Linked DNA regions of Homo sapiens: all the other regions are reported to be linked to region 1. The links are microRNA targets in miRTarBase. Many come from high-throughput screens and were not tested one by one. Region 1 holds a microRNA gene; each other region holds the end of a gene's coding sequence.

Region 1 (5,200 bases):
ATTTTATAAACCAGTAAAAATATTTTTTTAATTTGAGAACCAACATAAGGTTGCAATTTTTTTTTCTTTTTGGTAAGAAGGAAATTTTTTAAACTACCAGTTTCACACACACACACACACAGAAATTCCAACATGATTGGTCAGAATAGGTGAGGTTTTGCTGCAATAACAAACAACTCCTAAATCTTGGTAACTTCAAACATCAGAAGTTGTTTTTCTCACTCATGCTACATCTGCAGGGAGGTATGGGATGCTCTGTTTTCCATCAAACCTGCCCTAAGACTAAGGCTAATGGGGGTTGCATTACCTCGAGTATCACCAAGCAGGGAACAGAGGGAGAAGAATGCTAGAGAGTCTTGTACTAAGAATTAAATGACCCAGGCTAGAAGTCTCACACTGCACCTCTGCCCCCAGCCTCTTGGCCAGTGCTAGCCACATCCCCTCCCCCACCACAGGGCAATGCATGAAGACAGGAGAATTGGATACATTACAAATTTCTACCCCATGGCATTTCATAAAAGAGAAAAAATGCAAATACAAAAATGTTTTAATAGAATAGAATATATACATTTTTAGAATACAGAACAATCCTCCAAAAAGGACAGCTGGTGGTCTTTCACCAATGGACACATTTCTGTGACATTTTCTCTGTTTTTCCATTTTATACTTGACCTATGAACATTTTGTACAGATGGTCCAAAGAACACCATTTGGGGACCACTGCTCTAATCAGGTGATGAAAACGGCCCCAAGAACAGAGCACAGTCTCTTTAGCAAAGACCCAGCAGGGCCAGGGTGACCATACTCTCACCATCAATGTGCAGATATCCACCTGCAGCATCCTCACATCCCATCAAACAGTGGCTCTTTATAGCTTGATTCTGATGTCCTTTGATCTTCATAATCATTGTAAAGCTCTCTGGCCCCAAGATCTAACATCGCCACTCTAGCTACATCCTGCAACTGTTCACCACTCCTGCCTCCTCATCCCTCTAGACTTCTCTTCACAACCTCATGTTTCCTTCTTGCTTTACTTTCCTGCTCAGCCTGGACCTTACAGTCACCTTCCTGTAATGTGCTCCTAAACTCTTTCTTCCCTGCTTTCAACCACACCCACCTGGAAAATTTCCATACCCCACTGATGACTTGCCTTGCAACTGCCCAAGGGCTGCTGAATGATACTGGAAAGAATCACAACATGGATCTGGTAGTTCCACTAAATAATCTCACCATCCAACTCTAGGGTAGACTTCACTTCTGTTCAGCAATATTTTTAAGCATTACAAATAAATTCCGAACCATATTTGCTATAACAATTGACTTTAAACCTCTTCCATATCTCAAAGTCCCCCAAACCCATCCCTAGGGGTTTCAGGGCCCAGAGTTGAGTTCTCTCAACTCACTTCCATCTCACCCCTAGATCACTGTATCTTGACCCTCTTCCTCTGCCTTTCCCATCTTATAAGGAGAAGCATCCTTCTCCTTTCCCAAGCTACCTTCTCCACTTGTGCCTCATTTGAGACCTCCCTTTATCACCCGTTTCCTTGGAACTCCCATGACTCACCACCTTCACTTGTCATTTCACTCATAAATATTTTGCACCATGTATGTGCCAGGCGTTTAACATATAATCATGCTAAAGTCTCCACATGCTAACAAGAAAAACCTTGATTATCCCTGCTATGCCCTCAAGTCATTACCCTCCCCGCTCCTTTCCTGTGTTCCCAAACTTTGTTGATCTTCATCAATCCCTCTGATGCAGATGGCTCTGAAGTTTGCACCCTATTAGGTTGGTGCAAAAGTAATTGCGGATTTTGCCATTAAAAGTAATGGCAAAAATAGCAATTATTTTTGTACCAGCCTAGTATCTTTTCTCCTTCTACCAAACTTTGTCCCTGAGCCATCTCATCACCTATAACTACCTCCTCCATGCAGTTGATTCCCAGATCTGTATTATTCTACTGAAAATCCATTCCCCAACTTTCTTGGCTAGAATAACAGAAGCCCAGTTAGAATTCATGATACCAGTTTCCCACCACCACCACCGTCGCCCTGCCATTGTTAGCAAAACCATCTCTTGAGTGGAGCTCAAAGATTTGTAATCCCCCACTCCCCAGAAAGATAACTTCAGACTCAGCCTAGAAGTAAAGATCCTCCAGATATGGCCTCAACTACCCTCCAACCCATGTCCCCAGTGCATCCCTTTGATGCCCACTTCGGTGGAGTTAAAACGGAGTGAGTGTTTTTCTTTTCACATACTCCTGGTGTTCTTCCACAAATACAATTTTCACCTCTTGAATATTTTCAAGGATTCTCTATGCTACACACAGTGAAATCCAAACTCCCCATCAGGACCCCAGTCTTCCCAAATGCTCTTTGCACTTTTCCACCTCCATGCTTTTCCTTGGATCATCCTCTTCTCTAATATAACCTTGTGTATTACTCTAGGTTCTCCAGAGAAAGAGCAGAGAGATAGAGGTAGAGCTATACACATAGAGAGAGACAGATTGTTTTGTTGTAAGGGATGGCTCACATGGTTATGGAGGCTAAGGAGTCCTGGAGTCTGCAGCCAGCAAGCTGGAGACCCAGGACAGCCAATGATATAGTTCCAACTCGAGTCCACATCTAAAGTCAGGAGAAGATTGATGTCCCAGCTCAAATATAATCAGGTAAAAAGAGCAAATTCTCTGTGACTCTACCTTTTTGTTTTGTTCAGGTCTTCAGTGGATTGGATGAGGCTCACCCATATTGGGGAGGACAATCTGCTTTATTCAGTCTACCAATTAAACATTATCCTCATCCAGAATACCTCAGAGACACACCCAGAATAGTGTGTAGCCAAATATCTAGGCACCCCACAACCCAGTCAAATTGATACATAACACTAACCATCATGTCTTGCTTCTACTCTCTCCCCATTACTGCATGTCCAAATCCTTCCCTTATTTCAAGGCTTAGTTCAAATGTTACCTCTTAACTAAGCCTTCCCTGCAAACCCCAAATATTAATAGAATTGGTTTCTCCCTTCTCTGATATCTCAAAATACGTTGTGTGTTTCTCTTTTACTGTATTTATTACAAACTCCCTTATAAATCAAGACAATGATTCCCAGACAAATTATCAGAAGAGTATAAAAGAAGTCTTCTTTGAGTGTGAAATATCTCATGGAATATAGCACATGGCCTCTTCACGAAGAAACTACTAGAAGAGAAGAAGACAAGCTGGAAGAGGCCAGGGAAAGGGGGTTAGTACAAAACACAATGAGGCTGGGCTCATACAGTGGCTCACCTGTAATCCCAGCACTTTGGGAGGCCAAGGCCGGCAGATCACGAGGTCAGGAGATCGAGACCATCCTGGCTAACATAGTGAAACCCCGTCTGTACTAAAAATACAAAAAAGTTAGCCAGGCATGGAGGCAGGCACCTGTAGTCCCATGTACTCGGGAGGCTGAGGCAGGAAAATGCTGTGAACCCGGGAGGCAGAGTTTGCAGTGAGCCGAGATTGCACCACTGCACTCAAGCCTGGGTGATAGAGCAAGACTCCATCTCAAAAAAAAAAGAAACACAATGAAATGTCAGTGGATGGGTGCCTATAATTTCTAAGGGAAATAGAGTATAATCCAAGAATTTTATAGCCAGGTAAATTATTGCCCAATCAAAATAGGCAAAAGACACTATCACATGTTCAAGAACTTAAAGAATACAGTATTTCTGAGCTCTTTAAAAAAAAAAAGTCTTCATAATAAAATTTAGTCAGCCAAGAAATTACAAAATAAGCAACTTGTGAATTGAATGACCATGACAAAAGGCTAGTGATGAGAGGTGAATCCATTTAAAAATAGGACTACTATTGCAGAACAGAAAGAAAAGGTGGTCAACCTTAACAACATAAAACAACCTAGAAATAACTAGTTTCCAGAGGTAAAGGGAGGGACTGTAGGAAGTAGAAGTGCTAATGCCCTTTATTAAGCCAATTAATCAGGTCTAAAATTGAAACGTGGTTTCAAATATATAACTTCTTTTTTATTTTCCTCCCTAACTACCTGAGGATCAACCACCATGATGAATGACACAGTAACTATCGGGACCAGGAAGTTCGTGACCAATCGACTGCTACAGAGGAAACAAATGGTCATCAATGTCCTTCACCCCAGGAAGGCAACAAAATGTACAAGACCACAATGGGTGTCATCTTAATAGTCGGACTCAGAACCCATTTTGGTGGTGGTTAAACAATGGGTTTTGGCATGTTATCTGGTTCTTTGAATTATGCAAAGAAAAATGAACTCAAACATAGACTTGCAAGACACGGCTGGCATGAGAAGAAGATGACCTCAAAAAAACAGCAAAAGGAATGCAAGGGCAGAATGAAGTCAAGAGACTGCAAAGGCCAATGTCAGTGCTGGCAAAAAGCAAAAGGAGTAAAGATTTTGCAATGACTTTATTTGCAGTGACTGTACAAATTTTTCATGAGATGATCAGTCAACTGTAAAGACTTCTACATATATATAATACATCTTAATATTTTTCATCATCTTTGATTTCTTAGATGTTCTAGAAACTGATTTTTAGTGAGGAAAAACTACATTTATCTGAGTTGACCAGTTCGTTCAGTTTCACTTCCATTTCTTTTTCTTCTGATAAATTTACACAGCATTCAATTTGCTACTTCTTGTTTTTAAAATCTCATTTTGTGTGATCAGAAGTATCTGTTCATGTCTCTAGCCATCTTTGTGCATAGCAAGGAATGCTGTTCACTTAATATTATGGAGGTTTATTTCTTGGGGTCATGAGATTTGGGGTGATTTCTCTCCCTTTTTGTACTTTTCGGTATTAATTTTTTGAGACAATGTCACCAATGTCCTTCATATTAATATTTGGACTCAGAATCCCTTTTGGTGGTGGTTAAACAATCATCACCCACATTGGAGTGCAGTGGTACGATCTCAGCTCACCAAACCTCTGCTTCCCAGGCTTAAGCGATTCTTCTGCCTCAGCCTCCCCCGTAGCTGGGATTACAGGAACGCACCACCACTGCCTGGCTAATTTTTATATTTTTAGTAGAGATGGGGTTTCACCTTTTGGCCAGGCTGGTCTTGAACTCCTGACCTCAAATGATCCACCCGCCTTGGCCTCCCAAAGTGCTAGGATTACAGGCATGAGCCACTATGCCCAGCCTTTTCTGTATTAAATTTTTTAAA
Region 2 (5,000 bases), not on the chromosome of region 1:
ATGAGTGGCTTCAATGGGGTGTCAAGAGTAAGCATGGAGAGCGGATTTTGACTCATGGGTAACCTCCGACATGCCAGCATCTATTAAACTGTACAGACAATGGGAGCAAGCCCATTGTAGGGAGATTTGTCTCACATCCTAGCAGCCCTGGGGCCAATGCATGGGAAAAACTCAGTGATGCCAAACCAGAGACAGACCTGCCCATTCACAGCTCTGAGGGGAAATAAAACGTGGGAGGAAGGCAAGAGACACACAAAAAATAAACATACTAAGTAAAAGGGGGGTGGTGTAGGCAAACGGGGGTGTTGGTGGAGGCGGTTTTCAAAAGAAAAGTCAGTGACCACAACTCTGAGAGCAATGAATGGAAAGGAGGAGTTGAAAACTGTTTTTCTAATTATTTGAAAATAATACAAATGGCTGCTGCCGTTGCTAAGGCACCGGAGAAAAACAGAGTCCCTGAAAATCCACAGGTACTGTGTGACTCTTCCTTTCACAACGACACAGAGAGGGAAACAGCCCCATTTAAGCTTCCTACACTGATTGGTTTGCAACCATTTCCATGAGTGAGCTGCACATGATATTGATAAAGACTCTTCCTGGGAAAAAATAAAACAGTCCATGAAAACAATCACAAACAGAAAACCAAACCAAACCAAAGTACAGAACTGTTTCTAAATTCCCTATCCTTTTCAAACCAACATGCTGGTGGAGAAGGGAGGGTGGGCCACAGGGCTCCAACATCAGACCTTGAAAACACCGAGGACAAAATATCGATCAAAAAAGTCATGTTGTTCCAGGTCCCAAGATGATGGAGTCATAAGATTGGGTGGGCAATGACCACACATGAGTCCTGTATGGAGCAGTGTCTCAGCCACTTGTGACTCTTTTTTTCAGCCATGGTACACATTGGATGTTTCAAAGCCTCAATGCATGTTTTGTATCCTGAAAGTCTATTGTTCTCACTTACAAAAGACATAAGAATCAAATTAATACTTTATTATCAAACACTATGTACAACAGAGGTTGCTAATAATACAGAATTTAAAGAACGCAGTTTTTTTTTTTTTTTTAATGTTTTACTTTTCTTTCCTCTGCCACCCAAGAAAGTACAGTACAAAACAATAGTCTAAACTAACACGAACTGTTACCTGGTCTATTAAAGGATACACGGTATCCACTAAACAGACAGATCCTTATTTCCCTGCTTGATGTTGCAAAGCCCTTGGCAACCAGGGGCAAAGGTCACTGGGGTTTGACTAACTGGGGCTGAGTGGCAGCTATGACTGTCCTTCAGATTTTTGAGTTGTTTTTGAAATTAAAAGCTTCTAAAAGTTGCATCAACATCCTCCTAAGCCCCCAGAGGATTGTAACACCACCACAAAAGGCCACCAACACTTTTTAAACAAAGTGAAAACTGTCTGACACCAATCATCTTGAAAACTCCATGGCAAGTGCATTAGCTATGATTTCATCACTTACAGGTAGAGAAGCTTACTGTCTACTGGTGTGGACACTCTTGCTATTTTCTTTATACTTAATTTGCAGTGGCAGAATGGTGAAGTAAAGGGGTCTAATTTCACTGTGAAAAAATGAAAGACAATGGCAGAGAGGGCCATGAGTAATTATTTCACCATTTGTTAGAGACAAATGCTAGGAAAACCACAGAAGTCACCATTTCTAAAATGCATTTAGCACTGCTAACATAGTTATGACTAACTGGAATCATGACAGGATCATTTGATTTCCTTGTGGTTATAGAACATGCTGTATTATTTTGGTTCTATTGATCCATTTTAGAAGGTATCTTTCTCCCCCTACCCAAATCCCACTGGACCAACAAGCCTGTAACTATTAATTAAAAAAAAAAAAGTATTTCTGCATATGACTGAGAGTACTGCATATATAAATAGCTAAAGGAAAAAGGAATTGAATGCCGTGAACTTTTGTTTTGGTGAAATGGTGGCTGCCTTCTGTGATAAGACTCTGCCACTCCAGAGGAGTTCCTTATGTCAGAGGGGAATAGGATTGATTGTATCTGTGAGGCTGGCAACCCCACACACATGGTTCCATGTGAGAACAGACTCGGCAGTGACATCCACTCCAAATGGATCAGGTAAGCCCAGATTACATTTCAACATGTGTACAACTCTCCAGGGCACAATACGTTTACAGCTGCCTTTCCTTCACATACTTTTCTAATTCAGAACTACTCACAATTCTAAGCAAATTCCCATTCACGAAGTCTGTCCATAATGCGACCTTCTCTTTTTTTAACATATACATCTTAAAAAACAAATATATAAAAAATTCTTATTTTGCTGGAATGCTTTCAATTTTTCACATTTTACATGATCATCACATTTATTTCTTATATTGAAAGGCATGGTTTCTGTTGACATGTCGTGCAAAGCCAAAAAAAAAAAAAAAAAAAGGGCTGGATTGCTTTTCAATTGGTCTAACACTTTTCCTTGTCTAGGCTTTGGATTTTAAAGTTCATGACAGCCCCACCACCAGTAGAAACCCCAAGGCTTGCATTTCCTGGTAATCGACTGGAAACGTCCCCTGTTGGCCATGCTAAGATTCCTTCAACAGGGTCATCCTGCATTTATTCTCCTTCTGCCCCACCCCCACAATGAAACAAGATAGCCCCCATATTTCTAAATGTATCAAGGGATACCACTTTTTCTCACAAGTTTAAATAGGACAAGCATATATACTCACTCTCAGCATAAAGTATATCTAAATAATGTATTTTCTATTCTAGTGGATTTTTAAAAAAATATTTTGTTAAAGTCTTTGGGACTCCATCTTGTTTATCTCCCACAGATAAACACATGTTCCCCCTACGCTTTAGGCTGTGTCAGAAAGGGAAAGAATATAAAATCAACACTTGAATTTTTTTACTCCAAACTTTGGAATTTTATTTCCAAATTTCCCTTTAGCCCTCCCAAGTAGTGCTGACTGACTCTCCTGGTGACAGGGGTTTGTGTCCGAGCCCCTGCGGTCAAGGAGTGTGGAGCAAAACGTGGGTACTAGGGTGGGAGGCGGGGAAAGGCCACAGCACACTGGCGCTCCAGCAAAGCCAAATCATGTCTCCTCTGGCCACTGCGGTCCTCTCCTTGGTACATGTCATCCCCCAGAGGAGTATCCAAAGCTATTCCACTATGCACTCATCAACCCTGGCTTGTCAGCCTTGGGGAAGGTCACTTTATTCATAAAAATGCCTCTTTGAGTTTCTTAAAAAAAAAAAAAAAAAAAAAAAAAAAAAAAAAAAAAGTTGTAGCACCATGGTGATCTGTATTCAAAGAAAAAATATCTGGTGTGCACTGCCCAGTCACCAAAAAAATTAGAGGCACTCACACATACACACCCCCAGCAAACCTGTAGTTTTCTCTGTTTTCACACCTGCTCTGTATTAGCATTCCACACCCAACCTGCCTCCTAGAAAAAAAAAAAAGGCTTCTTTTAGAGAGCACAAGTTTTGCTGTCAAGAATGCTTTAAGACAGTCATATTAAAAAAAAAAACCAGTGTCTCAACCTTTTAGAAGCCTGTTCATTTACATACTCCTATAGGAAATGGTGTAATATCGTATCTATTCTTAATACCTCCCCTCCGGACCTGACATGGTGACATGATGCCCTGCGCGATCATCTTACAGTTCTGAATGAGAAGGCATAAATATTGCATAGGAGAGCAAAACCCTCCCAGCCCTAGCCAGCGCTGGCTGCATCTGCCACTATTCTTCCTTGTCCATAGCCCGCTGACACAGTGCGCTAACGGAGGTGAGTTCTTAGAGGAGAATGCACAGGAGCTGACGAACCACTGGTGTCACTATGACAATTTGGCATTTTCATCTGGAGTCCATTTAATTTGGGAGGGGTGAGAGAAGCCAAGGGCCAGGGCTGGGGGTGGGGCGGGGTGGGGTGAGGGAGGCAGGAACAAGTTTAGGCCCCCAACCTGAAGTTGTTGCTTAGAATTCAGGCTGAAAGAAAGAAAACAAAAATCTGACATCTGCCAAAACCCAATAACAAGTCCCTTCTTAGGATGAGCAGTTAGGTGGATCTCTGGTGTTCCAAGACCCTGATGTTTTCTGTGACAAGTGATGGGAGGAGACTGTGCTATAATGTCAAAAGCATCGCCAGGAGGAACAGTAGGATTGCCAAAAGGCGGCTGGGTATCCTTGGTGTTTGTGCCGCGTTCTCGCCGCGGGATGGCTCGGCTGACTCATGTACGGTGTCATCTGTTCAAATAGAAAGCACACATTCCAATGAGATTTCACATCCTTAATAACTCTCTTGCAGCAGCCTGCTGTTAACAGACCTCGCCACCCTCTGCAAAGTAGGGTAATGAACCTTGTGCCACCATTGACTTTCATGTCTGCATAATCACTCATTATTTACAGCAAACAAAGAAGAGGCAAAGAAAATTGGACTTTCTCAGCAATATTAATACTTTCCTTAAAAATTGAGGGGAAAAATTATGCATACACCGTAACCTTTGGCCTGTGAGCTGCTTTGGTTAGCCAGCAGTCAGACACGCCTTGCACAAATTTCAGATATCTGAATGTACCTTTGAAACCTAAGATGTCACAGGCAAGCAAGTGACATGTTGGTGGGGGTGGGGGAAGGGGCAGTTATGTTGGCACAGTAGTGGTTAACCAGAATGCGCTGCCCATTTCCCTTCTTTTAGCTGTTTCATAGGATTAGTGTTGAATGCCTGGTTGTTGGATGCCTAGACGAATTTTCAAACATGAAAAACTAAATGCCAAAACAGCAGCATTTTGGATAAACTATACATCATGCCTAGTAAACTTCAATAAACGTATGCCCACTAGTTTGCCTGCAATTAGGTGTCAATTATGGTGCTATTTCTATTACAAACCCTGTATTTCTAAGATTAAATTACTTGAACTTGACTATTTTTATTTTTATCGGGCTGAAGCTTGGCACATAAATTATCAGCGTGGATGCAAATTTTCCTCTAAATAAAATAGATTAAG
Region 3 (5,200 bases), not on the chromosome of region 1:
ATTATCCCTGACGGACACTGTGTGTGAGGAGTCTAGCAGACCATGATCGTTCCTGGCTCTTGTTTCCAGAAGCACTGGAGAGGACTGTGTGAATTTGAAGTGTGTGAAATTAAACTCATAGATGCCTCAGTAGTTAATGAAGAATAAGTAAGCCTCACTGTTCAACTTTAGTTATTTTTGCCCCTTCTCCTGGTTTTTTACATCCCAACCACCCCCAGTTTTGCCTTTCACGTCTATTTGACATAGCAACCACTCTATTGCTGGGTAATTTATGTTCTGTTTAAAACAGAAATATTTGTGCCTGTAGTCTACCATTGCTCAATTTGTAATTTAGCTTTGCAATGAAAGCTTCTAACAGTTACACCTTGTCCTGGTACATTGTTGTTTCAGGCTTATTAGTTTGCACATGTTTTAGTAATACAACCACCAGGCCGAAGGTCTTGCTTCTATTCTTACATAATTGTACAGTGTGAATCTTTTGACAATTCTTTAAGGAAAGAATAACAATGCTACCTTACATCCTGCAGTTAACGCTTTACAGCGTACCTTGAAATACCTTATCTCATTCAGAGCTCATGGTAACTTTGCGAGTTAAGAACACTGTCCCTGTGACAGATCAGGGAAGTGCAGCCTAGAGAAGTAAAGAAAGCTAATAAGGAGTGAAGCTGGACCTGAAACCTGTGTCTTTTGATTCCAAGCCCAGCATGCACCACAGCTGGACATGTAAATCAGAGTTTAATTTTCTTTTTCAAAGCTCTGGCTTAACTTCCAAGCGACTTGTAACGTGTTGGCTGATGCCGCAGGCCGTTGTTGTGAGAGGAGCCATTCTGTTCACAGCTCCTCCCTGCCTTTCTAACACTGTTTGATATTACAACATGAATATAATAAATATAATGATAGGAATAAATATAAGCTCTGCCCTTTTTTTGCAAATTTTGTTAATTTTCATGCCGCTACTTTGTGTTTTTCTTTTTCAGTATTTCACCTTCTTATAAGACTCTTCCATCAGTATCAGAAACGTTTCCAACGTTAAGATCGATGATTGAGGTGCTAAACACAGACTCTTCTCCACGTTGTCTTAAGAAACTCTAGTTCTGCTGCTGTATTTATACAAGTAAAGGGCCGGACCTCTTGCTTCTTAAGTTATTTTTTAAAACATGGAATTATAAAGAAATTAGGTCCTCTATTACTTTTGATACCAATTTTTATAGGAATTGAATACTTGAAATCATTTTCTTTACTTTTCTGAACCATAATGAAAATCATGAAAGAGGCTTTCGGGGGGAAAAAGCTACTTGACTTGGAGGGAAAGCGTATGTATTAGCCGGCAGCCTGTTGGTTCCCACTTATAAAGTCATATAACTCCTTCCTTACAGTAAAAAAAATTTTCCTCAACAACTAAAATATAATACTGAAGATGAACAAAAACAAAACCAAATAGGAGTGTTTGTATTCCTTTAGAGATCTGGATATTTTTCAAAGACTTGCTTTTTACGCACATTGTGATAGAGCATCTTTTGTTGACTCACGTAACCTCCATGTGTGGGTCCTTTGTTTTATTAGAACCATGGAAGAAGGTTCCTGGGCCATCAGTATGTGTTGCAGAGCTCACAGCCAGGAACACTTATTTTGAACAATGCAGACAGTACTTGCCAGAGTCCCAAATGCTGAATTATTGAACCATGTTTTTTTTTCCTTTGTTGAAAAAAATAAACCAGGGTGATTTCTATAAATCACCAGTTTTTGGCATTGGATTATGTATGTGTTTATTTTGTGAACCAGTTTCACTTTCAGGTATAAGAACATTCAGAAAGTCTCTCTTGTTTTTTTTCCCAGACAGGGTAAATGACAGTGAGTAAAATGAGTTAATTAAAACTGTTGCTGTTTCCAAATGGCACCATCCATTAGCAAGCTTGCTCTTCTCTCCCTTCTACAGGATGCACACCCATCTCTTTGCTTGGCCACTTCTCCCTGTCCATTGTAATTTCTCTTGGACCACTTCCGGAGTCTCCTGACTCATATTCCTGCTGCTGCTCGGTTTAAACCCCACAGCCTCCTTTTGTCCTAAAATGAAACGCAGTCTCCTGCTGTAGCCTAGCTGACGTGGCTGTGTTTCTCTGATTGAATCTCTTACTCCCCACACTGTCCTTTGTTTGCACCATCAACTCCCCTAGCCTTTTCCTTTCTTGAGAACCTTACAGTTAGCTTGACACTGTCCGATAGAAATTCTGTGATGACATTCCAGAATGTTCTGTGTGCTGCCAGTATGGTAGTCAGTAACCTCATGTGGCTACTGAGCACTTGAAACAGGACTAGTATGCCTGAGGAGCTGAGTTTCACATTTAGTTTTAATTAACTTAAATTCAAATAGCTGCATGTAGCTAGTGGTTATTATATTGGCCCATGCAGCCTACAGAGTTCCTAGTGAGACTTTAAAGGTTTTTCCACAGAAATAATCCAGAATGGTGGTCTCCCAGTGTAAGTTAATATCATTTTGAATTTGTGGTTATAGACTTGCCTGAGTAGCTAAGCTCTTACTATGATCTGTTTTTATTCGCAAGAGTTCCCATACCAGATATATGGAGTTTTCCCCGCATAGCAACCAATTATGCAGCTTTCCATATATCAGCTGGAGTGGGGAGGGATCCTGCAATTCACATCTGACACTAACTTCCTGGAGTTAACACAGACCCCAGAGGTTAAGGGCTCAGTCTCACAAGACTGCCCCCTTTTCAGATGCCAGTTGCAAGTCAGGGCCTCCTGTACTTCTGACTGATTGGCTATAACTCGGGGGTTCCCATCACACCCTCCCTCCTCATGTTTGATAATTTGCAAGAATGGCTCACACAATTCAGGGACACCCTTTACTTACTATTACTGATTTGTTATATCGGATACACATGAACAGCCAAATGGAAGAGGTGCACAGGGCAAGGTATGGGGGGGCAGCATGGAGCTTCCGTGCGCTCTCCAGGCCCACCACCGTCCCCCCACCTGGAAGTGTTCACCAACCAAAAACCCCCAAACCTTTTCACTTAGGGTTTTTATGGGGGTTCCATTGCATAGGCATGGTTGATTAAATCATTGCCAATTAGGTCAATTCTCAGCCCCTCTTTTCTCTCTGGAGGCTGGGGGTTAGGACTGAAAGTTCCTCTAATCACATGGTTAGTTTCTCTGGCCCCCAACCCCCATCCTCCAAGAGTCATCTCATCAGCATAAATTCAGATATGGTTGGAAGGTGCTTATTAATAACAAAAAACACTTCTCATCCCGATCACTCAGAAAATACCAAGAGTTTTACGAGCTCTGTGCCAGGAACTGGAGGGCAGAGATCAGATATAGCTTTCTTATTACCTCGGTATCACAGTTCTATCGATAAAATTGCTCCTGTGGATCAAGATGTTCAGACTTTTAAAAAACTAACTTTAAAGGCCGGGCGCGGTGGCTCACGCCTGTAATCCCAGCACTTTGGGAGGCCGAGGCGGGCGGATCACGAGGTAAGGAGATCGAGACCATCCCGGCTAAAACGGTGAAACCCCGTCTGTACTAAAAATACAAAAAAATTAGCCGGGCGTAGTGGCGGGTGCCTGTAGTCCCAGCTACTTGGGAGGCTGAGGCAGGAGAATGGCGTGAACCCGGGAGGCGGAGCTTGCAGTGAGCCGAGATCCCGCCACTGCACTCCAGCCTGGGCGACAGAGCGAGACTCCGCCTCAAAAAAAAAAAAAAAAAAAACTAACTTTAAAAAATCTAGAGCAAAATTTGCTAGTACATTAAGAACTTTAGTGTGGAATTTCTTTGGTATAGAAACTGTATGAGGGACAGGAAACTGACCTCCAACTCTGTGATCATTACTCTCTGATAATTTGGAAATATGGAATAAAATTGATATGCCTCAGAAAGAGAGACCAGCAAAATCACCTAAAGAAACCCACTGTGTCCCAGACCAGCAAAATCTGAGTGTTCATGAATACATCTTAAGATGTCTGTAATGGAGCCCATCATTCCTTCACCCAAAGTCTGTTTCTCCCCACGCTTCTCTGTGTCAGAAATGGTTCCCTTTTCACTCAGCAGCTTCAGCCAGACACCCAGGCAGCCTCCAGAGTCTACACTGCCCTCCTGCAGTTTTCAAATGATCACCATCCAGTCCGATCCTGTTTACCTCTAAGAAGATCCCAGATCCATTCATGTCTTACCATCTCCATTGTTACCCCCAAGCCCAAGCTACTTAAAGCTAAACTAATCAATATTAAACTAAATCGAACGCTTGTTTCTGTCTCCCTAGCTGCCTTTCAAGTGCTCAGTAGCCACATGTGGCTAGCAGCTATCACATTGGACAGAGCAGACATGGGACAGCCCCATCATCACAGAACATCCCACTGAGCAGCACTGCTATCCTGAAAGCAAACACACTGCTATCCCCCCAACCCAACACACTGCGCATCCCGGTGGTCTTAAGCAAGGGTCCAGGAGGTTTTAGGGTCAAAACCACAGTGTTTGGTGGCAGCATGGGGGCACAAATTAGAGAAAGAAAGAAAAAACACTTCTAGACTGGCTTGAAACGTTTCCTTCTGTTTTCTGATCCAAGGTGTCTGTGGTTAGGCCCGGGATCTCCATCTTCACCTAAACCTCACGTGCTTCACACAGAAGTGGTCTGGGAACCACACCTGAGAAACATCAAACTAGAATATCATGAAAACAAGTATGTTCTTGAATATTAGAGCTGTGATTAGATTTACAGTAGCCCTTTTTGCTTCAAACTATGTTCCCATAAATATAGAATCCCTTTAGTTTTATATGTTGTAAACATAAATTTTACCAGTTAAACTAGTCTACAGAAAGTTGGATATACAAAATGAGATCACACTACACTGTGCTTAATTTTTAAAATTTACTTTTTTCAATTAACACATAATGAATTATATGTCAATAAATATATTTGTAACATTTTAAGTTGGATATACACATATATATGTAATTAAGTCTTGAACACAGGCAGCTTAGTTGAACACAACTTGGTTCACAAGCTCCAATAAAGAGTTTAACTTGTGCCCATTCAAGGTGACACAGACGTGCAGTTTTGAATTGCCTTGTTTAAGTTCCCAGCCTCCTTGCCTTCGCCCTTCGGGGGACAGTCTGATTTCCTGAGCCAGGCGTCTTGGCCACCCTCGGGCCTTTGCCCAGATCCTCCGCACTGAGGTTT
Region 4 (5,200 bases), not on the chromosome of region 1:
TTACCTTCTTTTATTCTTTGTGCTATTCATAAATTTTACATCTGCACATTATATCTTATAATACAGTTAAAATTTTTCCTTTAAATAGTCATTAAGTCTTACAAAGAAATTAAGAGAAAATGGTATTTATAAATATTTGCAGGCAGATTCTTTGGGGCTATGTAAATACACTGTTTCTCCTTTATATTTTACCCACAATTTTTGCATTCTTCAATATATCTTGTCTACAGTAATTATTACTGTGGTGTTCTAGTGGTGATTTTCTATTTTGCATTTATCCCATTAAGGGAGAATGTATCTCAGATCAGAAATATTTGTTTTAATTATGAGATACTGTACTGTGTTACCTTTCTAAGATTAAAAAAAATTATGAACTATAACTGGCTCTAAGGGTTTCTTTTAAGGGAATTATATATTATTTTAGAATTCATGAATCTTTAAATAATGTAGCTGTTGTCTTTTAATTTCATGGTGAATACTAAGACTGGTTTTGTGATAGTTATTCTCTTTATGTAACTTCTACATATCTCTACTGTTAAAAGCTATCTTTTTCTTATGGTAAAATTGGTTTAGAGTGGTTGACAGTTTAAAGAGGGATTTGTGATGATATCTGTTCATTTTCATAGGGTTGGGGAGCAGAATATCACCGGCAGGATGTAACCAGCACCCCATGTTGGATTGAGATTCATCTTCATGGGCCTCTTCAGTGGCTGGATAAAGTCCTTACTCAGATGGGCTCCCCTCTGAACCCCATATCTTCTGTTTCATAATGCAGAAGTATTCTTTTCAATTATATTGTTAGTGGACTTGTTTTAATTTTAGAGAAACTTTGAGTACAGATACTGTGAGCTTACATTGAAAACAGATATTACAGCTTATTTTTTTCTACATAATTGTGACCAATACATTTGTATTTTGTGATGAATCTACATTTGTTTGTATTCATGTTCATGTGATTAACTCTTAGAAGTGTTGTAAAAGATGCAGAGTAAGTATTATGCCCCAGTTCAGAAATTTGGCATTGATCTTAAACTGGAACATGCTTTTACTTTATTGCCCTAACAATTTTTTATTAAATTTATTTGAAAATGCATCACATGATGAAAAATTATAGTAGCTTATAAGAGGGCATATACAGTGAAGAGTAAGTTTTCCCTCCTACTCTCGATCTTCCAGAAGCTGTACTTTTACCAGTTTCTTTGTCCCACCAACTTAAAAAAAAAAAGTACAATTCATTGTTTTGCAAAAGTGTATGGTAGGGGCTTAAAAGAAACTATAAAGTTTTATTTGAATGAACACTATGCACTGCTGTAACTGGTAGTGTTCAGTAAAAGCAAAATGATAGTTTTCTAGATGACATAAAATTTACATTTAATACAGATAAGTGTTCTTCAGTGTAATGTGACTTCATGCTATATATCTTTTGTAAGACATTTCCTTTTTTAAAAAAATTTTTGCAAATAACTGATCTCAAGTATATGTCATTTACTCAAAATCTGTCATAAGCATTACTTTATAGCTAGTGACAGTGCATGCACAGCCTTGTTCAACTATGTTTGCTGCTTTTGGACAATGTTGCAAGAACTCTATTTTTGACATGCATTAATCTTTTATTTTGCACTTTTATGGGTGACAGTTTTTAGCATAACCTTTGATAAAATACACTCAAGTGACTTGGACTTAGATGCTTATCCTTACGTCCTTGGTACCTTTTTTGTATTAACAAACACTGCAATTTATAGATTACATTTGTAGGAAGTTATGCTTTTTTCTGGTTTTTGTTTTACTTTCAACCTAGGTTATAAGACTGTTATTCTATAGCTCCAACTTAAGGTGCCTTTTTAATTCCCTACAGTTTTATGGGTGTTATCAGTGCTGGAGAATCATGTAGTTAATCCCATTGCTCTTACAAGTGTCAGCTTACTTGTATCAGCCTCCCTACGCAAGGACCTATGCACTGGAGCCGTAGGAGGCTCTTCAGTTGGGCCCCAAGGATAAGGCTACTGATTTGATACTAAATGAATCAGCAGTGGATGTAGGGATAGCTGATTTTAAAACACTCGGCTGGGCACAGTGGCTCACACCTGTAATCCCAGCACTTTGGGAGGCTGAGGCAGGCAGATCATGATGTCAGGAGTTTGAGACCAGCCTGGCCAATATGGTGAAACCCTGTCTCTACAAAAAATACAAAAATTAGCTGGGCATGGTGGTGCGTGCCTGAAGTCCCAGCTACTCGGGAAGCTGAGGCAGAAGAATCACTTGAACCTGGGAGGCGGAGGTTGTGGTGAGCCGAGATCGCACCACTGCACTCCAGCCTGGGCGACAGAGCGAGACTCTGCCTCAAAAAACAAAACAAAACAAAACACTCACCCATCAACGAATATAGACTCTTCTCTCATTTATCGATGATCCTCTTTTTCCATTTTTTAAGTACTTATGTGGAAGCTAGTCTCCCAAAACACAATCTTTAGAGAGAAAAGACATGAACGAACTCCAAAATATCCATTTAATCAATCATGTTTTTGGCTTTGGATAAAGAACTTTGAACCAGTTTTTTTCTCAGGAGCTGTCAAATGGACACTTAATTATGACATGAGAATGAAGAAATTATTTTGGAAAAAAAAAATGACCTAATTTACCTATCAGTGAAAGCTTTATTTTCTGGTGCCTTTTGAAAGTATATGGAGTCATATCATTCTTCTGTTTAAAATGTTAGTTTGGTTTGACTTTCCACTTTGTCCTTTCTGCTCTTGTGAAGAAAAAAAAAAGCATTTTCGAGGAAAGAATTATGCAATTTCTTTTGTTTTCTGTGTCATTATTTATTGCTTTTTCAATGTGCAGCCAGTGGATGGTTTTAGTTCTTTCAGATGAACTGCCATTTGTGTTTCAGCTCACAGTTCTTTGCTGGGTAAAAGAAATACTTTCTGACAGTCACCTGAGCCTTAAATGTAAGTATTACATGACATGCATTCTGTTTCTTCCAGAGTTCTGTCTGCCACACGAAAGAGAATATTTGCTTACTTGATAGAACTTTGGCATTTTCATCATTCTTTTACTTAACCAGGCTTATGGCATGATCTCTGGAACAAATTTGTAGGAAAAAATTACTCCAATTGAATGACTGATGTATGTAATCAACTTCATTGGGCTGCAGTAAACTAGTGGAAATTAGAGAGTTGTTTTATTGGTGTTTTCTACTGTGAGTTAATTAAAAATTGTTTTTATTTGGGGTCATTATGTCACAGTCTTGAGTTAACAAGATCTTACGTGATTGGCCTTTTCTTTGTTTTCTCTTAGGAGTTGTGTCTCATGAATGACAGTACTAAAGCTATTAACAACTAAGAGTTTGACAGAGAACTATAAGCCTGTTGTATCTCCTAAAAGTTGTCAACTCCCCACCCTTGGACTTTAAATGAAAATTTTATTCAGTCCAGCTATTCTTACAGTCCCTAAGGATTTTCATATATCTATGTATAGGAGATAAAATTTGCTAGTAAGATTTTTAAAAACTGGCTAGTGAAAGGAAAGTACCTCTGAAAGAAACCATTTTAGCAAATTATGGTTATATGTTTTAATTTAATCTACAGAATGTTTTATAGTAAAATTCTAGCACCACTAGAATAATCACATAGCATGTACAATATATTTATGCTGGCTGAAAAGACAGAATCTGGGAATAATAAAATTGCAACCAGTTTGGTAATGCAAACAGCAGAATAGAATGAAATCTCAGTAATGAATTAAAGCAACAAAAAGATATTGATTGGCAAAAAGCAAGATATAAGAGATTCATTTGCTTAACATTTCTACATAATATTTATGGTCTGGTCAGTATTGGTCTGGTCAGTATTGCCTGGCTGACGTGAAATGTAAACTAGTAGGCGTGTTATTGATCTGCTAAAACTAACCCTCTTTTTAAGAGGAGATTTAAGGAAGACGTCAATCAAAATGTCAAATATGTGTGTCAGAATATAAATAATTTTTCACATTGTATTGTTGCTATATAAAAAAAATAATAGAATTGGTTGGGTTTCTGAGGTGAAATCCAGAGTAAGAGTACTAGACAGTTCAACAAGCCACATCTAATGGCACAGATAGAGGATGTAGCTATTTTATACCTTTCATAACATTTGAGAGTAAGATATCCTTCAGGATGTGAAGTGATTATTAAGTACTCATACCTGAAATCTGTTGTCAAGATTAGAACTGGGGTTCATGTTAAAAACCTTCCATATTACCTGAGGGTACCTGTGGGGAACAGTTCCTTCCCCTGTGTGGTAGTATTTTGTTGGAAGAGAATGTTTATACAAAAAATGAAATTCTTCCAACAGCAGAGAAACTCTAAAAAGTTTGATAGTACCTATCAAAGTGCTGTACTTCTGTGATAGAGAACATCTGATGTACCAATTTAGATCTATTTCTTTATACTTTTTCTAATCAATTGCTTAATAGTACTTTGGATGATTATCACCTTTGCCACTTAAAATATATAAATATCCTTTTTACTTCATGAGGAAGGAAGAATTTTTTGATAATTACTGAGTTCAGCCTTTTGTGATGACTTATATTTTGGACTTACATTTTAACTTTAAAGAATGTCAGATCCCTTCTTTGTCTTACTAGTTAAATCCTCACCTAATCTCTTGGGTATGAATATAAATGTGTGTCATCGTTATATTGTTCAGCTAGATGAGCAAGTATCTTAGGGTAGTAGGTAGCCTGGTGGTTTTAGAAGTGTTTGGTGATTTTTATGGAGAGAGTTTTCCTAAGTGGTGGTTTATAGGTGGTATCAGATATTATTAGGGCAGCTTTTTGGGGAGTAATCTCAGGTCTCCCAGAGCAGCAGCATTTTTCTCATTGATATAAGTAAGATTCTTAGGAGCTTTTCTTATCACACAAGATGCCTGAATCGAATGTGAGAATTGAAGGCATTTCTTCTGCATAAACAAAGAATTCTACCTGCTGGACAGAAACCTGGAAAGTTCTTTGGAATTCGCTGAATTACAGTTTAGTATGTCCTGATTACAGAGTGACAATATTTATCAAGCCTTTGTTATATTGGATTATCTTCTCTCTTAAAATACAACTGTATTATAATTGAAATGACAGCCCAAAATTGGATGGTTTACCAAAACCAATGAAAGGGATTTCACACATCAATTTTTATTTCTGTTTTGAAGAGCACATGCTATATAATAAT
Region 5 (5,200 bases), not on the chromosome of region 1:
AGGCAAATAAGTGTAAAAAGTTAAAACAAAATTAGAGAATCAGCATTTTGTAACACCAAAGAAATAACTGATTTGGGCAAGTATAATTAATGGATAGGTTGTTAAGGAAAGGGATATTCAATTTGATGCCAAAATATCACCCCATAGAGCATTTGCTGAGTTCAAAGGGAAAAAATGTATCTTTACAATGAAAAGATAACCAAGTGATTAAATTTAGCGTCACTAACAATGGAACCACCTGGCATTATATCCTCCCGCAGTAATTCAATATTAAGTACACAGCATCTTTCCTGAAATGCTAACTCTGAATTTCATCTAGTACCTACTTGACAGCAGGTACAGTAGACAGAGGAACAAGTTAAATTACACCACGAAGAAACAATCAGACAAAAGCAGAAAGTGGGAAAACTACAACTGGTCTGGTGCAAAAGGTCAATGCAGAGGGGAAGAGGTGACCGGCTGTTCAACACAGAGACTGATGAGCTACAACCAAATGCAATGCACAAACCTCAGCTGGCTACTGACGCAAAATAGCAGGACAAAGGCCATTTGGGAACTAATGGAAAAACAGAAATTTGTACAAATGGTTTCATCCCTCAGGAGGGGCACGCTTACACCACAGTAACAAAGAGCCCAAATTCTCAGTGGCTTAAAACAAAGGTTTATTTCTCACTCCCACTTGTATCACAATGTTTCAGAAGTGTGATGCTCCCTAGCCTGTTGCTCTTTATACAAGAGTAATTCTGAGGTGGGGCGTGGTGGCTCACGCCTGTAATCCCAGCACTTTGGGAGGCCAAAGCCAGTGGATCACCTGAGGTCAGGAGTTTGAGACCACCCTGACTAACATGGAGAAACCCCGTCTCTACTAAAACAACAAAATTAGCCCGGTGTGGTGGTGCATGCCTGTTATCCCAGCTACTCCGGAGGCTGAGGCAGGAGAATCACTTGAACCCAGAGGCGGAGGTTGTGGTGAGACAAGATTGTGCCACTTTAACTCTGTCCTGGGAAACAAGAGTGAAACTCCGTCTCAAAAAAAAAAAAAAAAAAAAAAAAAAAAGAATAATTCGGCATCCCTTTAAGAACAAACAAGATGTTTACTGACCATGATGGGTGGTTTACAGCAGTGTTTCTCAAAGTATGATTCCCCAACCATTTGCATCACAATATCCAAAATATTGCTAAGTGCAAACAATTTATTGGTATGCAAATGATTTTAACTCCAGAGTCCCAACCCCTAACTACTGAATCAGAAACTGAACACCAGGGCTATAGAGTCTACTACTAGCTTCTGAAAGTTCCTTTCAGTTATGCAGGCCACTATTTTATAAAAGTTGCCATTTAAATGGATATTTTACTTTCCTAGAAATAACTAGAGTAGCACAAATACTGTTTATTAAAATGTCAAGGTTTCATGTTTACATTTTCTTATATCAAGTACAATGGTATATATACTTTTTTTTGAGATAATTATTCTAGATTCCAGGCTTTCTTCTAGATGTAAGTTCCTAAAGCTTATAGTTTACATTGATATCTAGACATATATCTTAAACAGTCTCCAAATTTTCTTTAATTAATCAAAGTATGTTAATGTCACTTGGAATTCTACATGGAAAAGCCAACAAAATAACTAAAACTTGACTAATGAAGATCAGCGTCACTAATAAAAGTCTGCAACTGTAGTATTAGGTTGGTGCAAAAGTAATTGCGGTTTTTGTCATCACTTTCAATGGCAAAAGCCCCAATTACTTTTGCAGCAACTATATAGTTTTATAAATGATCAGCATTTAATCCAACTTAGCATGTCAACTGGAAATTTTTCAATATTTTAAAGCTGACCTTCTGCAAAAAATGTTTCAAAACAGGCTTGACTGACACCACCTCCCTGCTCTGCTACCCGACCAAATAAATTGAATTTGTTTTAAAAGAGTTCCCTTCATCTTTACTCAAGATTCCCTGAGCTACTTCTAGCCTAGCTGACCTTTTCAAAACACCCTCAATAAAATTATCCTCTTGTCAGCCAGTTATTTTCTTCCTCATATTTACATCCAGATCTGCCTTTGGAGAGACATTTCACCTCGAATGTTTGTACTCAATGGACCCTGCCTTCCATCAAGTTGGCAAGGGCACAAAAAAATAGTGATTGTAATATAAGCAAGTGACAGGAACAAAATGAAAACTTAATGACATTATTACCTACATCTGATGGGCCTTTTAGCCCACTATACCTATTTTAAATATTCTGGAAATTATTTTTGTATGAAACAGGTATTATTTATCAACAAACTTTTGGAAAATAAACTCCTCAAACCTTATGCTGTTATGTTAATGTAATGGGCAAGTCTACTTGCCTAGGTGAGAAGAAAAAAAAAACAACTACAACTTGATTCCATTTGTTTTATCCAGAAGAAAAACATTCAAAGTAAAATGTGAACATTTAATTACCTTTAAATCATATATGAAGTAATTTACATGCTATACACTTCCAAACACACTGAACATAAATTCAACTTTATAAGACATATACACAGTCTGCTTTTGCCAACATATACCCTGTAGGTCACTTAAGATGTAACTGATTTCTCAGTCCACCTGTGAGCATATAAACACACAAATATATGTCTGAAGTTGAAGATTAAGATAATAAACCAGAGTTGAATACAAGAAGTCAGCCACAGAAGATTCTAAAACCACAATCAGTGACTGGAACACCAAGGCACAAAAACTTCCCTTTGTAGTCACAGAGATTAAGTTTCCATTCCCAGTGCTTAAATATGGAAGCAGGATTGGTTAATCACATACTATATTTTATAGTGCATTTCTGTTGCTGTTTAAAAAGGAATATTTTTTAAATTACATAATGTATTACAGAAAAGCATTGGAAAAATAAACAGGATAAGATAAGCTCTCATACAATAAAGTTTTTTTTGGTCTGAAAAAGATGTTTATATTCAAAACTAATATAATAGAGGTGTAACAGAAAGTAGCATGAGGAACACTATGCAAATTGCCTAATACTCGAATTGTACTTCATGCCACCATGTTATTTAAATTTTCAATTTTAAAGCCAGTTGGGTGATATTGCTAATTCCAAGTGATAGTTTTGGGGTTTTTATGTTTTGTTTCTTGTTTTTTGGTAATTTAAAGATATGTACTAGTACACAGAATAAACAGTAAATATAACATGGCAAAATGAAATCTTTCCCAGAGTTTATGTTGCTTTTGTTAAACAGTAACTTTGTACTAGAATCTCTTTTTTTTTCTATATTTAACAAGAAGAAAAATAATGCTCCACATAGAAATGACTTCAAAATTCATGCAACCATGCACAACCTAAACTATCTGTACTTCCCTTTTTTATTTACCCAAAAGTTTTTGAGTAAACTGAAAGTTAGATACTCCAGGAACAGCAACTCATTGAGCAATAAGGCAGTTTAAAAATATACATATACATGTACTATTCATTGTTTCTCAGAACAGTTTTAGAGCTTTAGCTCTTTAAACTTACACAGTTGTGAAAGAAATAAAGCCAACCACAAAATAAGAATCAATGGAATGCAGTAATCCATATATAAAAGACAGTCAAATGTGCTTATACGTATTCAAGAAATCAATATTCTAAGCTGTAAATAATAAATTATCAAATGTAGCACTAAACAAATTATGATCAGAATAAACCTTCAGTTTCATTAATTTTGAATACAAAAGTGGGGCAGGCTAAACGTGAACAGTGTACTTCTACAAGTGTTTATATAGAAGTATTGTAGCATGCACCCCCAGCAGTAATGAGAGCACAATTCTTTACAAACAAAACAAGGCTGACCAGAAGAAAAACAAAACAAAAAATCTTGTTGTAGGCTGTAAAACTTAAGGGTAAAGAATCCACTGGGAATTTAAGGCTTTCTTAGAAATATTTTTCATGGCACTTTAACATTAAATATCACTAAAAGGCAAAATATGTAAATATTCATAGTTACAAAGCTACATAATTGAAAGTACATGCCATATCATTTATTAAGAAACTATGTTGTCAAATTTTGTTTTCTTGAAGTTAAATTGTACTTAAGGAAGGTTATTTATGTTTGGCTGAATTAACATAAATCATAAACGTCAATTCACTAGTGTACAGTGCAAATTGTGTTTTGAGTAAATACATCAAATACCACTCATTTCTTACAGAACTGAATGTCATTCCTTGCTGGAAATGCAATTAAAATGACTTATTTCTCTCACAAGGGTAGTTATTATCCTTCCTTCAACTATTAGCCTACTGTTAAACCCTAAAATTGTTATTAGACAAATTCCTTTTGGTTATGCTTACAGACCATCCTCACAATAATCCTTTTCTTGTACTGCAATCATTGCAGAAAAAACTCTATGAGTCTAACAAGTCATTCTTGCCACACCATACTCTAAGCTGACCACAGCAGGTTCTGATTTAGAAAACTCTTCTGCATATTCACTATAACGATTATCTGCCGGGCTGCTGCCCTCTATAGTTCGAAGAGCATCATTTACGGGTAGCAGAGTCTGCTCTTTAAAACACAGGGAAGTTTTGAGGTTAGGTGATTCAGGATGAACTGAATGTAACAATTCCTTGGTGAGGATGCCATCTGTTTGCTTATTTTTGCGTTGTTTAATTTTCTAGAACAAACACAAATTTGAAAAAATTACTAATTGCATAAGCCACAATATGTTACATGAAAAAAGAAAACATGCTTTTGCAAAATATGTTCTCTGTATGTATAATGCAAAACTAAATCTCAAAAAAGTAGAAACATTTAATGCATATGACATGGTTGAAAATCCTAATTGTGTACAATTTTTTGCTGTGGAAAATTGTTAGTTTTTATATTTATTAAACAAACAATCCAGCAAGACTTGACTGCAGGCGATCACTAGGCTTCCACACTTAAAATGGACATATATTACCTAGAAAGCATAACAGGTAAACATTTATAATAAAAGAAATGTGTATGAAACATTCACCCTGAAAACACAACAAACAAACTTGTGTAGCTAAAGGGCTCACTGACTATATAGAGTTTTTCTTACATGGTTTTCCTACAGTGGTTTGTTAGGTAAAAATAACAGACTTTAAACACAACAGAACTTTACTTTTTTAACAGAAGATTTTTAAAGTGTCCTGTGGCAGAGTATCATGCTCTCCAAATTCTTGGACTGTCCCGATAATCTTGTATTA
Region 6 (5,200 bases), not on the chromosome of region 1:
TTGCTTTCAGGAGAAGAGCATGGGCGGGCGCTGACAAGAGTTTAAGAGCTAGAGGGAAGACGGGGGATGGAAGGAGGGGTCAGAGAAAGGGAGGGAGCTGCAGCTCACCCTGTTCTCCCCACTCCCCAGTTCATAGGCACAGCCTCCCTTATCGTGTGTGTGCTGGCCATTGTTGACCCCTACAACAACCCCGTCCCCCGAGGCCTGGAGGCCTTCACCGTGGGCCTGGTGGTCCTGGTCATTGGCACCTCCATGGGCTTCAACTCCGGCTATGCCGTCAACCCTGCCCGGGACTTTGGCCCCCGCCTTTTTACAGCCCTTGCGGGCTGGGGCTCTGCAGTCTTCACGTGAGTACAGCCCCCACCCAGCTCACCCCAGCCTGCCTCTCCTCTGCCCTGCCCCCCATGTCCCTGACTATGAGTGTCTGTCCCCCCAGGACCGGCCAGCATTGGTGGTGGGTGCCCATCGTGTCCCCACTCCTGGGCTCCATTGCGGGTGTCTTCGTGTACCAGCTGATGATCGGCTGCCACCTGGAGCAGCCCCCACCCTCCAACGAGGAAGAGAATGTGAAGCTGGCCCATGTGAAGCACAAGGAGCAGATCTGAGTGGGCAGGGGCCATCTCCCCACTCCGCTGCCCTGGCCTTGAGCATCCACTGACTGTCCAAGGGCCACTCCCAAGAAGCCCCCTTCACGATCCACCCTTTCAGGCTAAGGAGCTCCCTATCTACCCTCACCCCACGAGACAGCCCCTTCAGGATTTCCACTGGACCTTGCCCAAATAGCACCTTAGGCCACTGCCCCTAAGCTGGGGTGGAACCGGAATTTGGGTCAATACATCCTTTTGTCTCCCAAGGGAAGAGAATGGGCAGCAGGTATGTGTGTGTGTGCATGTGTGTGCATGTGTGTGCATGTGTGTGCAGGGGTGTGTGTGTGTGGGGGGGGTTCCCAGATATTCAGGGCAAGGGACCAGTCGGAAGGGATTCTGGCTATTGGGGGAGCCCAGAGACAGGGGAAGGCAGCCTGTCCATCTGTGCATAAGGAGAGGAAAGTTCCAGGGTGTGTATGTTTCAGGGGCTTCACATGGAGGAGCTGCAGATAGATATGTGTTTCTGTGTATGTGTATGTCTGCCTTTTTTTCTAAGTGGGGGCTTCTACAGGCTTTTGGGAAGTAGGGTGGATGTGGGTAGGGCTGGGAGGAGGGGGCCACAGCTTAGGTTTGGAGCTCTGGATGTACATACATAAGTAGGAGCAGTGGGACGTGTTTCTGTCATAATGCAGGCATGAAGGGTGGAGTGAAGTCAGGTCATAAGTTTCATGTTTGCTTTTGTTTTGTTTTGTTTTTAATGTATGTAGCAGATGTTACAGTCTTAGGGATCCGGGATGGGAGACCCCACTTTAGAAAGGGTCGTCACTCCTTTAATCCTCTACTCAACAATGTACTCTTTTACTTTTATATTAAAAAAAATAAAATAAATATGTGCCTAAAACCTCCAGTTGTGCAAATATCTTTCTGCTTGCTCTGCTGCTTTTCTGGGGCCAGTTAAGGAGCTTCCGCATGCCCACACTGACCCAGGGTGCCCGGCTGAGTGTCTGATCTGGTCAGGTTACCCTGGGGGTCATACAGAGAGGTTAGAGAGCCTCTTCACCAAGGCTCTCAGTTTGAACTCAGTGGTCCCAAACTTTCCCCCAAGTTTCCGTCCTCATGGGTACCCCCAGCATAATGAATGGAATCTTCTTCCCAATCCCTGTACCCACACATCACCCCAGAAAGGCTTGAGCCCTATGCAGGGAAGATCTTGCTGCAGAGCTACCCAATGGGGAGAACTGCTGCCCAGGAGGTGGTGAGTTCCCTGTTCCTGGAGGAGACCCATCAGACTGGGAACCTGTATTGTCCTCCACAACCTGCAGCTATTCAGGCTCCATAACCTCCACCCAGACCTTGGCCACAGCCCCCCTGGCAGCCTCCCTGCCTCCAGGCCTGCCCCAGTCAGTCCACAAAGCAACCAGAGGGATCTCTTCAAAACCTCTGCTGAAAGTGCCCATCTGGAGACCATCCACAATGCTCCATCTGGCGTTCAGGACCTCCAGGTAGGGTCAGGAGCCTACCCCTCCTCTCACATGGCTCCATCCACCTCAGCCTACTTTATGTGTTTCTGTGTTTTTGTGTCTTCAGACTTTGCTCCAAAGTCCCAACTCACATCTTTGCTCATTAAAGTCCTCATGATCTGCTTTAACGCCTCTTCCTCCGGGAAGCCATCCCTGCTCTGCCTCACTCTTCCAGCAACTTCTAGTCAGCTGTCTTAAGTGCCAAGACCCGCAGTTGCGTTCACGCTCATCTCCCCTTCTGCTTCATTTCTTCAGTCATTTCTTCACTTCTACAGAGGCACCTCTGTGCCCAGTAAGGCAGGGGGTTGGAAGACTGACTCTGGCGCTCTGACTTGCCCAGAAAAGCAACGGGCTCGGCACACCTGAGAACAGGAAGCTTTTCTCATTTGCTTCTTCCTTACCATACCCTCCTCAAGTTTCATCAAGGGAAACTTCATGCAATACAAGGGAAGGCATCCCCTACCCAATCCCTCCTCTGAGCGAACCCCATGGGAGCCAGAGGATCCCTGGGTGTGGCAGGCGAATTGTGGTTTTTAGAAGCTAAGCCAGCTTTTGCTCTCCAGCCTTCACAGATGAGATCATGGTCCAGAGAGGGCGGGTGGCAAACACAGGGTCACACAGCCAAGAATCTGCCTACGGAGGTGAGGGCAGGAGAAGGCAATACCATTTTAGGTTTCTATCCCTTCTTTGTCCCCAGCTCCCAAGAGGCGTGTCTGGAATGCTGGAGGGACCTGAGCCAGAGGGAGTGTCCCCTTCCCAGGCCCTGGGGGGAGGAAGGGCAAACCTTGGGAGGGGAATACGGCTGCAGAGGGTCATTCCAGCCACACCAGTCCCACCTGGGCTGCCCTCACCTTGCTGTCCTCCCCAGCATGCCCCATGTCCTTCTGTCACCCATTTCTCTCAAATCCTGCTGCTGACCCTGACCAGTCAGCCTAGGGGGTGTTGGCAGCACTTTTGGTGCTGCCACCTGGCCCAGCAAGGATTCTCTAGCTGGGTGACCTTGGGGTAGTCATGTTCTTTTCCTGAACCTCCCTTATCTGTGAATTGGGAGATATTGAGAGGAGGAAATAATGGAAGATGATTCATGGAAAGGACTTAACACAGTGATTAGCAGATGGTAAATCCTCAATAAATGTCACCTCATGATTTTTCCTGCAGAACCAGAGATGGGGGTGGGGAGGCAGTGGAGGGAGGATGCTAAAGGCTGTTTTTTTTAAAGGTCATTGAATTCAATATCCTCTTCCTCCTCAGATTCCTTCCATGGATTCTGAATTTCCCGAGAAAGGGGAGGGAGGAAGTGTGAGGGCGATAGCGTGCTGTGTCCTGACTTCAGAAGGCTCTTGGGAGAGATGGAGGGGAGACAAGAGGGGCTCACACACAGGATGCAGGGCAAAGAAGCACGTGGCCGCAACCAAGGGAACGTGTTGCCTGGAGGGTCAGGCCATGTGAGAGAGGGTAAGGCCCGGCCAGGACCAGGAGCAGTGGGTCAGGGCAGGGGCTGAAAGGGACATGAGCCAGGCAGCAGCTGTGTCACCCCTCCAGGGGTAGAAGGGAAGCTCCCCACCTCCTCACCCCACCTCCAGGTGTACCTTCCACCAGCAGTTCTGGCTGTCAGAAAGTTCTAGCAAAACAACTCTTCATCTCCTTTAGGAAGGTGTCTTCTCCCGGCCGGGCACGGTGGCTCACACCTGTAATCCCAGCACTTTGGGAGGCCGAGGCGGGCGGATCACGAGGTCAGGAGATCGAGACCATCCTGGCTAACACGGTGAAACCCTGTCTCTACTAAAAAATACAAAAAACTAGCTGGGCGTGGCAGCGGGTGCCTGTGGTTCCAGCTACTCGGGAGGCTGAGGCAGGAGAATGGCATAAACCCAGGAGGCGGAGCTTGCAGTGAGCCGAGATCGCACCACTGCACTCTAGCCTGGGCGACAGAGCAAGACTCCGTCTCAAAAAAAAAAAAAAAAAGCCGGGCGCAGTGGCTGACGCTTGTAATCCCAGCACTTTGGGAGGCCGAGGCGGGCGGATCATGAGGTCAGGAGTTCGAGACCAGCGCGGCCAACATAGTGAAACCCCATCTCCACTAAAAATACAAAAATTAGCTGGGCGTGGTGACACACGCTTGTAGTCCCAGCTACTTGGGAGGCTGAGGTGGGAGAACCGCTTGAACCCAGGAGGCAGAAGTTGCAGTGACCTGAGACCATGCCATTGCACTCCAGCCTGGGTGACAGAGTGAGACTCTGTCTAAAAAAAAAAAAAAAGGAAGTTATCTTCTCCCATTCCATGTAATCCATTTTCTGGTGAGGACATGAAGGGAGAATTGCATCCCCTATCTCACCTCTGTCCCTTCTTCCTGTGCTGAGCCATCTCCACAGCCCACTTTGGAGGAGCTCATGTTTCCTTAAAATTCAGATCTGCTTGGGTTAAAATCAGTCTCTGTGAAACTTGAGCTTGGTTCCTGTTTCTTAGTGTGCCTGCCTCAGTGTGTGTGTGCACCCAAGCAAATGCACTTAGTGTTTCTGGTTGTGCCTTTCTTTCAATGTATCTGGTTATGTCTCTGTGGGTCCAAACCTCTGGCAGACCATGTCTCTGTCTCTTTCCGAGTATCTCTTACTGCCTGACTCTTTGTGTCTGGGTCTTTCTTTTATTATTATTATTATTATTATTTTTGAGATGGAGTTTCACTCTTGTCATCCAGGCTGGAGTGCAATGGTGTGATCTCAGCTCACTGCAACCTCTGCCTCCTGGGTTGAAGCAATTCTCCTGCCTCAGCCTCCCGAGTAGCTGGGATTACAAGCACATGCCACCACGCCCAGCTAATTTTTGTATTTTTAGTAGAGACAGGGTTTCACCGTGTTGCCCAGGCTGGTGTCGAACTCCTGACCTCAGGTGATCCACCTGCCTTGGCCACCCAAAGTGCTGGGATTACAGGCATGAACCACAGTGCCCAGCCTTGTGTCTGGGTCTTTCTTTGTGTACCTCTGAGTGAACATCCTGGACTGTGACCCTCAGATCACATCTCTGCATGTTCCTCTGAGCCCCTCTCTCAGTGTACTTTGAGTACACCTCCATGTACTCAGTGCATATCTCTGCCTG

Evidence for each region. Region 1 holds the annotated microRNA hsa-miR-548i (AAAAGUAAUUGCGGAUUUUGCC, at 1,798-1,819, shown strand). A microRNA usually pairs through its seed, bases 2 to 8, with sites in the 3' UTR of a target mRNA and lowers its output. Matches are read on the target gene's strand: a 7mer-m8 pairs with bases 2 to 8, a 7mer-A1 pairs with bases 2 to 7 and ends in A, and an 8mer does both.
Region 2: miRTarBase lists EFNA5 as a target of hsa-miR-548i. Seed matches in the 3' UTR shown: 7mer-A1 at 2,730-2,736.
Region 3: the mRNA of TTC13 is a reported target of hsa-miR-548i. Seed matches in the 3' UTR shown: 7mer-m8 at 1,187-1,193 and 7mer-m8 at 1,238-1,244.
Region 4: the mRNA of SMAD5 is a reported target of hsa-miR-548i. Seed matches in the 3' UTR shown: 8mer at 1,046-1,053, 8mer at 1,509-1,516 and 7mer-m8 at 1,784-1,790.
Region 5: miRTarBase lists MTMR6 as a target of hsa-miR-548i. Seed matches in the 3' UTR shown: 7mer-m8 at 2,417-2,423 and 7mer-m8 at 1,696-1,702.
Region 6: the mRNA of AQP3 is a reported target of hsa-miR-548i. Seed matches in the 3' UTR shown: 7mer-m8 at 1,446-1,452.

Annotation. Positions count from the first base shown.
Region 1 is chr3:125,787,112-125,792,311 of GRCh38, reverse strand. It overlaps MIR548I1 (microRNA 548i-1), which reads left to right and starts at 1,760; the gene lies at 1,760-1,908. The region is part of intron 3 of LOC112267908 (translation initiation factor IF-2-like); the gene reads right to left. All of the region lies in intron 1 of LOC105374312 (a long non-coding RNA gene), which reads right to left. It also overlaps the pseudogene RPS24P9.
Region 2 is chr5:107,377,136-107,382,135 of GRCh38, forward strand. It overlaps EFNA5 (ephrin A5), which reads right to left. Exons shown (of 5, transcript NM_001962.3): 5 at 1-4,241. The coding sequence ends at 4,120. Among named protein-coding and RNA genes, the nearest start is that of EFNA5, 290 kb to the right of the region's middle.
Region 3 is chr1:230,902,797-230,907,996 of GRCh38, reverse strand. It overlaps TTC13 (tetratricopeptide repeat domain 13), which reads left to right. Exons shown (of 23, transcript NM_024525.5): 23 at 978-1,754. The coding sequence ends at 1,092. Among named protein-coding and RNA genes, the nearest start is that of C1orf198, 37 kb to the right of the region's middle.
Region 4 is chr5:136,176,711-136,181,910 of GRCh38, forward strand. SMAD5 (SMAD family member 5) reads left to right here. Exons shown (of 8, transcript NM_005903.7): 8 at 627-5,200. The coding sequence ends at 770. Among named protein-coding and RNA genes, the nearest start is that of SMIM32, 14 kb to the right of the region's middle.
Region 5 is chr13:25,244,852-25,250,051 of GRCh38, forward strand. MTMR6 (myotubularin related protein 6) reads right to left here. Exons shown (of 14, transcript NM_004685.5): 14 at 1,371-4,641. The coding sequence ends at 4,381. Among named protein-coding and RNA genes, the nearest start is that of MTMR6, 40 kb to the right of the region's middle.
Region 6 is chr9:33,437,448-33,442,647 of GRCh38, reverse strand. It overlaps AQP3 (aquaporin 3 (Gill blood group)), which reads left to right. Exons shown (of 6, transcript NM_004925.5): 5 at 130-347; 6 at 437-1,488. The coding sequence ends at 605. Among named protein-coding and RNA genes, the nearest start is that of AQP3, 7.5 kb to the left of the region's middle. RefSeq lists a silencer at 3,730-3,968.